Linked DNA regions of Homo sapiens: all the other regions are linked to region 1. The links come from fine-mapping of genetic effects on gene expression. A gene starts in region 1. Each other region holds a variant in brackets. All regions are shown on one strand. Distances are between the middles of the regions.

Region 1 (4,110 bases):
AAGAAACACAAACGCGAGTATTAGACAAATAAATTTAACAGATTTACGTCAACAAATCAAAATTTAGAAGGCCAATTTAGGAAGTCATTTATTTCCAGAGTGTCCAAGAGCTCACCTAGGACCTCTATGTATTTTCACTTCAAAGTGCAGTTTAGTACCTTAATAACAGCTTGAGAGCAATCGCCTTTTTCAAGGACTAGATCATTGCAATTTTCTGCAGTCTTGTTTCCAAGGAAAAAACATGTATGCGTTTATCTTTTCAAATAAACTAGTGGTATAACCCACATACAGAACCCCAGCTCTAAAGCCCTCCAACCATGGAGGATTGTTAACTCCAGCTTTACAAGATGCTCTTTTGAATTTTATTTCTGAAATAAATCCTACGTTCTTTCAAACATTTTCCATACCAACAACCTTTAAAGACAGTCTCATACAGACACTGGCTAGAATCTCATGCATTAAAATCTGACGAATTCCTTTGTCTGATCGGATTTTTTTTCTTGTACCACTTTAAATTTGCTTCTACACAGAATAGCAGCCAGGGAACTAAGTGTTCCATTCTAGGGTGTAGGGCTTTCTTGTAGGTGAAAAGCATTTGTTAGGCTAAAGCTTCTGATGCTTCTCAATTTCACAATCTCTTCCTCCAAAAAAAAGGAAATACACACATTTACAAATAGGTCCTAAAATCCAACTGCCACACGCGAGACTCTCTTCCCCAGGCAGGCGCCCTCTGGAAAACACACTTCTTTTATTGACTGGTTTTGGGGGGTCGTTCTTCTACTCGCCTTCTGGATGGGAGGGCAGTCAGGAGCCAGCAAGAGCCCAGAGGCTGAGAGGAGGAGCAAAGGCGTGGGGAGCAGCCTTTGGGAAGGGTTCCGAGAAAGGGGTCTCTGGGGACCTCCTAAGTCCGGGGCGCTCGCAGGACACTAACTCTCCGGCACTGCCACCCTTACCCCTGGCCGAGGCGCAGCTCACCTGGACGCAGGGACCCCCAGCGCCCCCAGGCCAGGTGTGGCCACCTCCGACGCCACCCGCAGTCCTCGGAGGCGCAAGGGGGCAGCGGCGCCGGCCCTGCTGGGGGCGACCTGGCCTCCCCCGGGTGCAGAGGCACGTTTGCAGAACACTCGTGTGCGTGTGCGCCTCCTCGTCCTCGCCCTGCTGTTCTCCCCACGGACGGCAGGGCGAACGCACAAAAAGAAAGTTGTCGGCGGGCTCCCGCCCCCTCGGGCTCGCCGGGGACCCGGGGCTCCCGCTCATCCCCGCCGCCGGCCGGCCGGGGCCGCTACTCACCGGGGTCGAAGTCGGGCACCACCGCCTGGTACTGGGGTCCGACCCTCATGCCACCGCCACCTGCGGGGGAAGCAGAATACGGCGGTCAGCGCGGCGCGGGGCGCGGGGCCCGGGGCCGCGGGGGCGGCTGCCACCTACCGTGCTCCTCGTCGCTGGACGAGCCCGAGCTGCCTTCCTCCCAGGAGTTGCTGCTGCTGTTGCCATTGGGCGCCGCCGCCGCCAAACTTTTATTCTGGCCATTATTGGGGGCGGCGGCGGCTGAGGCGGCGGCGGCCGAGGCTGAGGAGGCGGCGGCGCCCGAGGCGGCAGTGGCGGCTGGCGAGGCGCAGGCGGCCGAGGCGGCGGCGGAGGCGGCGGCGGCGGAGGCGGAGGCGGCCGCGTTGTTCCTCCCTCTCCGCTTCCCTGAGACCTCGGGGCCCTTCTCCACCATGGCCGGCATCGGCGGGGGCCGGGGCCGTGCGAAAGTGGCGGGGACCCGCGGCTCCTGAGGAGGGGGCGCCGAGACGGGGGAGGGGGCGCGGGGCCGGCGCGGGGCCGGGCGGGCGCGGCGGGAGCCCACGGGCGCGAGTCCGAGTCGGGGGAGGCCCAAACGGGCAGAGCGCGGAGCCGCTTCAAGCCCCCAGCGACGAGCCGAGCGCAACTTTCGCTCTCATCGCCGCCCTCACTTCACTGGCACCAACTACTCCGGGAGCAGCGAGCGGAGAGGGGAGGAGGCAGGGGCGGGGCCTGCAGGGGCGCCGGGGGAGGGGGGCGCGCAGCCCAACTGACGCGAGATGGCTCCGCCCCCCCTCGCGCTCCCATTGGCTCTGGTGGGATTTGGACAGCCAGCGGCAGCGGGGTTGGCTCCGCGCGCCCGTCCGTCCGGGGCGGCGGGGCGGGGGAGCGGGGAGGGGCGGCTCCGGGCTTCCGTTGGCGAGGTTCGGTTGACGCGTATCGCCCGCCGTACGTGGTTTGAGGTTTGCCATCTCCCTACGCCCCATGATCCATCTCTCCAGGCAGCGGCGAGGAGTTCGCGGCCCTCCCCGCCCCCTACCCTTGGCCGCGGCCCCTGCCCTTGCTGCCCGCGCACGCCTCCCGCAGCCTCTGGCCCCCCATCTGAAGGACCCCGCTGAGAGTCCCGTCGACTTCTCAAAGTAAAATGTGTCTGGCGCTGGGAAGCCGCGGAGCGCCCGGCCGGGACTACTTTCCGCTGCGCGGAGGAGTACGGGCGCGCTAAGACTCCATACAAAGAGGAAACTAATTGGGGGAAACTCGCTGCGCCCCCGCCTTTCCCAGGGGACGCGGGGCTGGCGGGGGCGGGGGCCGCGGCGCGGGGGACGGGCTTCCCAGGCGGCCGCCTCCCCTGGCGCGAGCTGCGTGGGGACTCGGGTCTGCGGTGCTGCCCGCTAATTGGGTGGGGGAGGCCGGGGCCCCCGGGGTGGCTTGGGTGCGGGGTGCGCCGCGGCTTCAGAGGCCCAAGGGAGGGTCCCCGTGGGTCCCCGGGGCACAGAGTCCCGGCGTGGGGACGCCCAAGCCGCCTGGGTGGCCGCTGAAAGATGAATGAAGGGGCCCAGTCGTCCTGGGGCGGGGGTCCAGGAAGGGTAAAGAGGAAGAAGCTATTTTCATCCCAAGCTCTCGGCACGGGAGGAGGGTCAACTTCTTTCGGGGCGAGGGCAGCCACTTTTCCGGACCTGCCGCCCGCCCCGCCTCCCTACTCCCCCCGGCACCCCCACGAGGGAGAACACGGGGTGCGGGCGGGTGGGGTAGGCTGAGGCTAGCCTGAGAGCCGCTGCCTTGGAGAGGGACCACCGGGCAGCCGTACAGCTGTTAGGAGGCTGAGGAGTGTAACTGCCTTGGAGGTCCCGGTGCCCTACCCCCAGCCAACCCTGAAACTACGCGCCCTTCGTAATTAGACCAGTGGAGGTCTATACGGAAAATCTTTTTAAAGCAGGGAAGGCTATTTTTCTTTTAAGTTACTTCAAACCTGAGCTTAATTTGGGGACTAGCTCTGGATATAAATAGCTACAGGGAGAATTTGGGAGTTTTATGGTTTTAAAGCCTGAGTAAATAAGCAGGGTTTTGTCTTGAACATTTTCTGCAGCATGAACCATTATTAACTTTATTGAAGAGACCACGTTCACTTCTGCCTAAATGGCCTTTAAGAAACAGGGCTGGGAGCCCTCCTGGTATAGAAGCCCTTCCCCCACCAAGTTCAGGTGGGGGACTTAGACTTTTAGACTCTCCTCAAAAGTACGTCCCTCTCCTTGGAGTGCCCTGGATGCTGCAGGTGTGTGCCCCAATACACCCTGTCAGCTGGCCTGGGCAGGGTACAGAACCGGGGTGGCATTCCCGGGGCTGGGCCACCGGCTAAGGCCTCTGACTCATCCGGAGGTGAGCCCTGTGTGAGGAATGAGGTCCAGAACACGCTGCCCCGCTCGCTTGGTGTCTACAAAGTTCTGCCACGAGACTAGAAGGATCAACCTACAAGGGCACAAAGGTGATACTGGGTCATTAAGGCAATAGGGATAGCAGAGCACACAAGGCCGCCCTCTCCACCCACCAGCCCCCAAGGCTGAGGCCAGGCTGGGCTACCAGTAGGGGCGCAGCAGTGGACTTGACAAGCATTCTTTTTTTTTTTTTTCCAACGAATATTAACACTTAATATGTGCCGGGCCCTGTTCTATTTTGTCTGACCCTAATGCTACACCGATACTGTATTGGCCTGAAGCTCTCAGATTTACCAACCGTAAAATACAGGAAACAGTACCTACCTCCTGGCCTGATGGACTGTAATAGAGTCCATCCTTCCAGCATAGGGAACCCCAACGTTAAGGACACTCG
Region 2 (4,122 bases), 61 kb after region 1:
AGGGAGACTCCATCTTAGAAACAAACAAACAAAAGGGCAACTAGCTGCCTTCGGACCTGCTCTGCCTTAGCCATTCTTTTTTTTTTTGAGATGGAGTCTTGCTCTGTTGCCCAGTCTGGAGTGCAGTGGCACAGTCTGGGCTCACTGCAACCTCTGTCTCTTGGGTTCAAGAGATTCTCCTGCCTCAGCCTCCCGAGTAGCTGGGATTACAGGTGCCTGCCACCATGCCCGGCTAATTTTTTGTATTTTTAGCAGAGGCATGATTTCTCCATGTTGGCCAGGCTCGTCTTGAACTCCTGACCTTGTGATCTGCCTGCCTCAGCCTCCCAAATTGTTGGGATTATAGGCATGAGCCACCGCGCCCAGCCCAGAACAGGCAACATTTTTTTTTTTTTTTTTTTGAGACGGAGTCTCACTCTGTCGCCAGGGCTGGAGTGCAGTGGCGCGATCTTGGCTCACTGCAACCTCCGCCTCCTGGGTTCAAGCGATTCTCCTGCCTCAGCCTCCCAAGTTGCTGGGATTACATGTGCCTGTCATTATGCCCAGGTAATTTTTTTGTATTTTTAGTAGAGACGGGGTTTCACCGTGTTGGCCAGGCTGCTCTCGAACTCCTGACCTGGAGATTCACTCGCCTCGGCCTCCTAAAGTGCTGGGATTACAGGCGTTAGCCACCGTGCCTGGCCAGGCAACTTTTAAACCCAAGCAGCTTCTGTTCTTGTCTTTGACCACCCTGGGCTCCCTGCGCCAGAGTCTCAAAATGTCAAGGCAGGGAGTGTCCTTGGAGATGATCTTTCTACATCCTCATTTCAAAGACAGGCAGGAGCTCAGAGAGGTGAAGGGATTTGCCCAAGGACACACAGCTTCTCAGTGATTACATCAGCTATTGCTCACGGTCCTCCACTTCCACTCCCCACCTCCACCTCCCACAGAGATCCAAGGGATTAGAAGCTGATATTTTATCAGGGCATTTGCTGCCTGGAATTAAGACATTTCCCAGCCTCCCTTACACATAGGTGTGGCCATGTGACTAATTTTTGGCCTCAATGTAAGGAGTGTGTTTGACTTCATAAAGAGTTCTTAAAGGGAAAGGCACACTCTACTCCCTTCTCACTTCTGGGAATGCAGATAAAATGGCAGGAGTTTCAGCAACCATTTTGAACACGAAGTGATCTCAGAAATGAAAACTATTCATGTGGCCCAGTGCAGTGGCTCATGCCTGTAATCCCAGCACTTTGGGAGGCTGAGGCGGGTGGATCACCTGAGGTCAGGAGTTCAAGACCAGCCTGGCCAACATGGCAAAACCCCGTCTCTACTAAAAATACAAAAATTAGCCAGGCATGGTGGTGGGCGCCTATAATCCCAGCTACTTGGGAGGCTGAGGCAGGAGAAACCTTTGAACCTGGGAGACGGAGGTTGCAGTGAAGCCTCGGCGACAGAGTGAGACTCCGTCTTAAAAAAGAAAACTAGGCCGGGCGCGGTGGCTCACGCCTGTAATCCCAGCACTTTGGGAGGCCGAGGCGGGTGGATCATGAGGTCAGGAGATGGAGACCATCCTGGCTAACATGGTGAAATCCAGTCTCTACTAAAAATACAAAAAAATTAGCCAGGCGTAGTGGCAGGCGCCTGTAGTCCCAGCTACTCGGGAGGCTGAGGCAGGACAATGGCGTGAACCGGGGAGGCGGAGCTTGCAGTGGGCCAACATAGAGCCACTGCCCTCCAGCCTTGGCAACAGAGCGAGACTCTGTCTCAAAAAAAAAAAAGAAATGGAGGGTCCAGGCCGGGCGCGGTGGTTCACACCTGTAATCCCAACACTTTGGGAGGCTGAGGCGGGCGGATCACAAGGTCAGGCGTTCGAGACCAGCCTGGGAAACCGAGGGAGACCTCCATCTCTACAAAAAGCACGAAAATTAGCCGGGCATGGCGGTGTGGGCCTGTAGTCCCAGCTACTTGAGAGGCTGAGGTGGGAGGATCACCTGAGCCCAGGAGAGGCTGCAGTGAGTTGTGATCGTGCCACTGTTAGCGTTGGAGGGTTTCCAGGATCTTGGTGTCTTGAACAAAGAATTGGACAAAACGTATAAACAAATCAAGGAAAGAATGAAGAAACAAAAGCAGAGTTTTATTGAAAACAAAAGTACAGTCGACTGCACAGAGTGGGAGCGGCCGGAGCACGTTGGCTCAAGAGCCCGTCACAGAATTTTCTGGAGTTTAAATACTCTCTAGAGGTTTCCATTGGTTATTTGGTGTGCACCCTATGTAAATGAAGAGGCTTAAAGTGAGTTACTGAAGTGAAGTTACAAAGCTATTTACTGGGTGTACACCCTATGTAAATGAAGAGGATGAAGTTACAAAGTCACTTACTTGGTGAACGCCCTATGCAAATGAAGAGGATATTTCCTGTCGTAGCTGAAATGCCTCCTCTCTCCTCTCCATCTGATTTAGTTCTGGGAAGTCCTCAGGTTCCCTTCCTCTAGGACTTATTCTC[C/T]CGTCTCACCACTGCACTCAAGCCTGGGCCCCAGAGCCAGACTCTGTGTCTAAAAAAAAGAAAAAAAGAGGCCAGGCACAGTGGCTCACACCTGTAATCCCAGTACTTTGGGAGGCTGAGGCAGGTGGATCACCTGAGGTCAGGAGTTGGAGACCAGCCTGGCCAACATGGTGAAACCCCGTCTCTACTAAAAGTACAAAAAATCAGCCAGGCGTGGTGGCGTGAGCCTATAGTCCCAGCTACTCTGGAGGCTGAGGCAGGAAAATCACTTGAACCCAGGAGGCGGAGGTTGCAGTGAGCCAAGATTGCGCCATTGCACTCCAGCCTGGGCTACAGGGCAAAACTCCATCTCAAAAAACAACAGCAAACAAAAAGAAAAAAAATAAAACCAGGTACGGCAGAGCCACAGGATGAAAGGAATAAAGGCAGCCCAGGTTCCTGACACTGTGACACTCCTTGCCATATAAGCCCTGGGCCCCTCTAAACAGATTTTGTTTTTGTTTTTGTTTTTGAGACAGCATTTTGCTCTGTTGCCCAGGCTGGAGTGCAGTGGCACAATTCAGCTCACTGCAACCTCCACCTCCCGGGTTCAAGTGATTCTCCTGCCTCAGCCTCCCAAGTAGCTGGGATTACAGGCGCCTGCCACCACGCCCAGCTAATTTTTTTGTATTTTTAGTAGAGACGGGGTTTCACCATGTTGGCCAGGCTGGTCTCGAACTCCTGACCTCAAGCGATTCACTCCCCTTGGCCTCCCAAAGTACTGAGATTACAGGTGTGAGCCACCGCGCCCGGCCGACATCTTCACAATGAGAGAAAAATAAGCTTCCATTGAGTCTGAGCTGTCCTTTTCTGGGGTTTTCTACTGGGTCCGCTTGACTCTGAGTCTAACACTTTTCTTGCTCTTCCAGAGTTTCTTCTCTGAGGAGGTACAGTGAGGAACAGAGAGGTCTTGGTTCAGAGTAGGCCCTGGGGTTTATGATTTGACATTTTATGTAGGGTGCAGGGACCCCAAATGATTTCTATCTTCATTATTCTATTTATTTATTTTTTGGGATCAGTTTCGCTCTGTCACCCAGACTGGAGTGTAGTGGCGCCATCTTGACTCACTGCAATCTCCGCCTCCCGGGTTCAAGCGATTCTCCTGCCTCAGCCTCCTGAGTAGCTGGGACTATAGGGGCGTGCAATCACGCCCGACTAATTTTCGTATTTTTAGTAGAGATGAGGTTTCACCATGTTGGTCAGGCTGGTCTCGAACTCTTGACCTTGTGATCTGCCTGCCTTGGCCTCCCAAGGTGCTGGGATTACAGGTGTGAGCCACAGCGCCCGGCTATTTTTTAATTTTATTTTATTTTTGAGATGGAGTTTCGCTTTTCTTGCCCAGGCTAGAGTGCAGTGGCACGATCTTGGCTCACCACAGCCTCTGCCTCCCAGCTTCAAGTGATTCTCCTGCTTCAGCTTCCTGAGTAGCTGGAATTACAGGCATATGCCACCACGCCTGGCTAATTTTGTATTTTTAGTAGAGACCGGGTTTCTCCATGTTGGTCAGGCTGGTCTCGAACTCCTGACTTCAGGTGATCCGACCACCTAGGCCTCCCAAAGTGCTGGGATTACAGGCATGATCCACTGCACCCAGGCTTTAT
Region 3 (4,122 bases), 32 kb after region 1:
AGGTTCCTCAGTTGTAACAAATGTGCGGCTCCAGCGGGGGATGTTGATTGTGAGGGAGGCTGTGCATGTGTGGGGGCAGAGGTACATGGGAACTCTCTGTACCTTCTGCTTAATTTGGCCGTGAACCTCAGGCAGCTCTGAAAAAAAAAGCTTTCTTTTTTTTTTGAGACGGAGTCTCACTCTGTCCCCAGGCTGGTGCAATCTGGGCTCACTACAAACTCCGCCTCCCGGGTTCACACTATTCTCCCGCCTCAGCCTCCCAAATAGCTGGGACTACAGGCACCCGCCACCACGCCTGGATAATTTTTTGTATTTTGGTAGAGACGGGGTTTCACCATGTTAGCCAGGATGGTCTTGATCTCCTGACCTTGTGATCCACCCGCCTCGGCCTACCAAAGTGCTGGGATTACAGGCGTGAACCACCGCGCCCAGCCAGCTTTCTTTTTCTTTGAGACGGAGTCTCGCTCTGTCTCTAGGCTGGAGTGCAGTGGTGGGCTCTTGGCTCACTGCAACCTCCAACTCCCTGGTTCAAGCAATTCTCCTTCCTCAGCCTCCTGAGTAGCTGGGATTACAGGCATGCACCACCACGCCCGGATAATTTTTGTACTTTTAGTAGAGACGGGGTTTCATCATGTTGGCCAGGATGTTCTGGATCTCCTGACCTCGTGATCGGCCCGCCTCGGCCTCCCAAAGTGCTGGGATTACAGGCACAAACAACTGCACCCAGCCAATAAAAGCTATTTTTAAAAAGTTTTGCTAAGTGAAAGAAGTCAGTCACAAAAGGCGACGTCATATGGTTTCATTTATATGAAATGTCCAGAACACGCAAACCCATAGAGATGGAAAGTGTGTGAGTGGTTGCCAGGGGCTGGGCAGAGCAGGTAAATGGAGAGTGGTTACTAATGGGTACATGGTGTGTTTGGAGGGTGATTAAAATGTTCTTTTTTTTTTTTTTTTTTTTCTGAGACAGAGTCTCACTCTGTCGCCCAGGCTGGAGTGCCGTGGTGCAATCTCGGCTCACTGCAACCTCTGCCTCCTGGGTTCAAGCGATTCTCCTGCCTCAGCCTCCAGAGTAGCTGGGATTACAGGCGCCCTCCACCATGCCCAGCTAATTTTTGTATTTTTAGTAGAGGGGGGTTTCACCATGTTGCCCAGGCTGGTCTCAAACTCCTGACTTCAGGTGATCTGCCCGCCTTGGCCTCCCAAAGTGCTAGGATTACAGGCGTGAGCCACCGCGCCCGGCCTCGAAAATGTTCTAAAATTGATTGTGGTGATGGTTGCACAACTCTGCGAATATACCATCCACCACAGAGAGCTGCACGCTTTAAAATGAATTGTGTGATATGTGAATTAGATCTCAATAAAGCTGTTTTATCTCAAAAAATCTACAGGTTGGCCGGGTGCGGTGGCTCATGCCTGTAATCCCAACACTTTGGGAGGCCGAGGCGGGTGGATCACTTGAGGTCAGGAGTTCGAGACCAGCCTGGCCAATATGATGAAACCCCATCTCTACTAAAAGTACAAAAATTAGCCAGGTTTGGTGGTGCACGCCTGTAATCCCAGCTACTTGGGAGGCTGAGGCAAGAGAATAACTTGAACCTGGGGAGTGGGGGTTGCAGTGAGCTGAGATAGCACCACTGTGCTCCAGCCTTAGCAATTGAGCGATACTCTGCCTCAACAAGAACAAAAAAAAGTCTGTAGGAAATTATAAAAAAAGAGACTGGAGTTGTTTGTTACCACCACATATCCTAGCCCATCCTGCCTCACCTCACTCAGGGAAGAGGAAGAGACTTGCCCAGACCACGTGACTAGTGAGCAGCAAGGCTGGGTGTCCACCCCGGCTGCAGTGCCCCTGTCGTGGAGTGGGGACACTGGCCCTGGTGGGCCTGGGTCTGGGGTGCCTCCTTGGCTGGGGTTCTGGCGTCTGAGTGAGCTCCTGCATGAGCCGCTGGGGCATCTCCTCTACTGCACCTGGCCCCCTGCCTCCCAGAGGGCAGCTGTGGCTTCCTGGAGACATTGCTCAGCAGCTGGTGTGCAGGGCACAGCTGAATCCCCAAATAAAACCGCAGCCACCCCCA[A/G]TGAGTTCCTAACTCGTCCAAAGACATAGAGCCAGCTTCCCCTTGGGGTCCGGCCTGGGGCAAGGCCCTTCTGGAGGTCATCTCAGCCAATCTCCTAGGTGACTCCAGTCGGAGTACAGGCCTCAGTCAGCCACGCATCCTGTGCCTGCTTGCTGCAGTCCTGGGCTGGGTGCAGTCCTGGGTGCTGGGACCCACAGCGAGGGCTGCAGCTCACACCGGTGTCTCACTCTCCACCAGATGCTCCGGCCCAGCCCCCAAGCTATCTGACTGCACCCAACCTAGCTCCAAAACTTCAGTGAAAGACTGAAGCTTCTTAGTCAGGCATTTAGGGCCTTGCGGGCTGGTTTTCGCCAGCCTCTCCTATCTCTTCTCCCACCACCCATGTGCCTTGGACTCTGGAGAAGGGAGAGTGACCCCAGCCTGTTCCTGGAACAGGCCCTGCCCCATCCCATCCTCTTGTTGGCTCACTGTGTTCCCTCCTCTGGAACACCTTTCCCCCGCATGGCTAGTTTGTCCCAGTCTCCAAATCCCTGAGGCTGGACAATGGGGAGCCAGGGTTGGGGAAGCTGAGAGACCCCTGGCTCTGTCTCCACTGGGGGAGGGTGTGTGGCAGTCGAGGTGGTGACCAAGGTGCAGTGCTAGTCAGAGCGAACCCAGCTGAGCACCAGCCGCGAGCCAGGGGATTGCCAAGGACTTCCCACGGCTGAAGCTATCCACTGCCACGGAGCCGACATCTCGTGGCAAGCAGCTTGCTCAGGGTCACTGAGTGAGAAGGCGGCACGGCAGGGACTGCGACCAGGACCCCAGAGCTGTCCTGTGAATCTTGGTGCCGCTTTCCCTCCAACTGAGGCAGCCACCCTGGCTTCTGCCCCATTACTTACCAGCACAGGGCCTCTGTTTCCCCATGCACAATGGGACTGAAGAACCTAAAGTTTTTTCCTACTTAGACACTCCCAAGTTACATTATCCCACAAATACCCCAGGCCCGCTCACTCGGAGCCAGCCCCAGCCTTCGTGTAGGAATTTATTTTATTTTATTTTTGAGACGGAGTCTCACTCTGTCTCTCAGGCTGAAGTGCAGTGGCTCAATCTTGGCTCACTGCAACCTCCACCTCCCGGGTTCAAGCGATTCTCCTGCCTCAGCCTCCTGAGTAGCTGGATTACAGGCACATGACACCATGCTCAGCTAACTTTTTGTGTTTTTAGTAGAGAGGGGGTTTCACCATGTTGGCCAGGATGGTCTCGATCTCTTGACCTCGTGATCTGCTCGTCTCAGCCTCCCAAAGTGCTGGGATTACAGGCGTGAGCCACTGCGCCTGGCCTCGTGTAGGAATTTAAAGCTGAAGGAGGCGACATGTGAACCTAGAGGTGAAGAACAATTTGCCAGGCATGTGAGGGTGGGAAGGGTGTTCCAAGCACTAGGAACAGGATATGCCTAGGCAGGGGAGAGACCAGTGTCAGCACAGTCCCCAGCCCTCAGGACCCTGCAGTGGGGAGAGACAAGCTCACTCCCTGTCCTCCTGGGCCACTTAAGAAGCAGGCAGGGCTGGGTACGGTGGCTCACGCCTGTAATCCCAGCACTTTGGGAGGCCGAGGCGGGCGGATCACGAGGTCAGGAGATCGAGACTATCCTGGCTAACATGCTGAAACCCCGTCTCTACTAAAAATACAAAAAAAAAAAAACTAGCCCAGCGTGGTGGCGGGCGCCTGTAGTCCCAGCTACTCAGGAGGCTGAGGCAGGAGAATGGCGTGAACCCAGGAGGCGGAGCTTGCAGTGAGCCGAGATCGCGCCACTGCACTCCAGACTGGGTGACAGAGCGAGACTCCATCTCAAAAAAAAAAAAAAAAAAAAAGAAGCAGGCAGTGGGTGGGGAGCCAGGGTGAGGCTGGCAGGGCAGCCTTCCTCATGACCTGCCACTGAGGTCTTGAGCCCCTGTGACCCAGAGAGTTGGGTTAGCCTTGGCCCAGAGGCCCAGAGAGGGCAAGACACCCTGGAGCCACTCAACAGGCAGGGCCCTGAGGGTGCAGGCCCAGCTCACAGCCA

Evidence for each region.
Region 2: its variant is fine-mapped to the expression of RCOR1 in whole blood (TOPMed, PIP above 0.99). The same link has a PIP of 0.9 or more in monocytes.
Region 3: its variant is fine-mapped to the expression of RCOR1 in whole blood (TOPMed, PIP above 0.99).

What each region holds. Positions count from the first base shown.
Region 1 is chr14:102,590,506-102,594,615 of GRCh38, reverse strand. It overlaps RCOR1 (REST corepressor 1), which reads right to left and starts at 1,967. Exons shown (of 12, transcript NM_015156.4): 1 at 1,429-1,967; 2 at 1,291-1,350. The coding sequence starts at 1,729. RefSeq lists silencers at 991-1,600, 1,661-2,970 and enhancers at 2,549-3,364, 3,646-3,695.
Region 2 is chr14:102,529,265-102,533,386 of GRCh38, reverse strand. It overlaps LOC105370680 (a long non-coding RNA gene), which reads right to left. Exons shown (of 4, transcript XR_944239.2): 3 at 2,359-2,531; 4 at 2,096-2,249. Among named protein-coding and RNA genes, the nearest start is that of MIR4309, 8.3 kb to the left of the region's middle. The variant C/T (reference allele first, on the strand shown) is at 2,483.
Region 3 is chr14:102,558,744-102,562,865 of GRCh38, reverse strand. No RefSeq gene overlaps it. Among named protein-coding and RNA genes, the nearest start is that of LINC02323, 16 kb to the right of the region's middle. RefSeq lists an enhancer at 2,029-2,298. The variant A/G (reference allele first, on the strand shown) is at 2,079.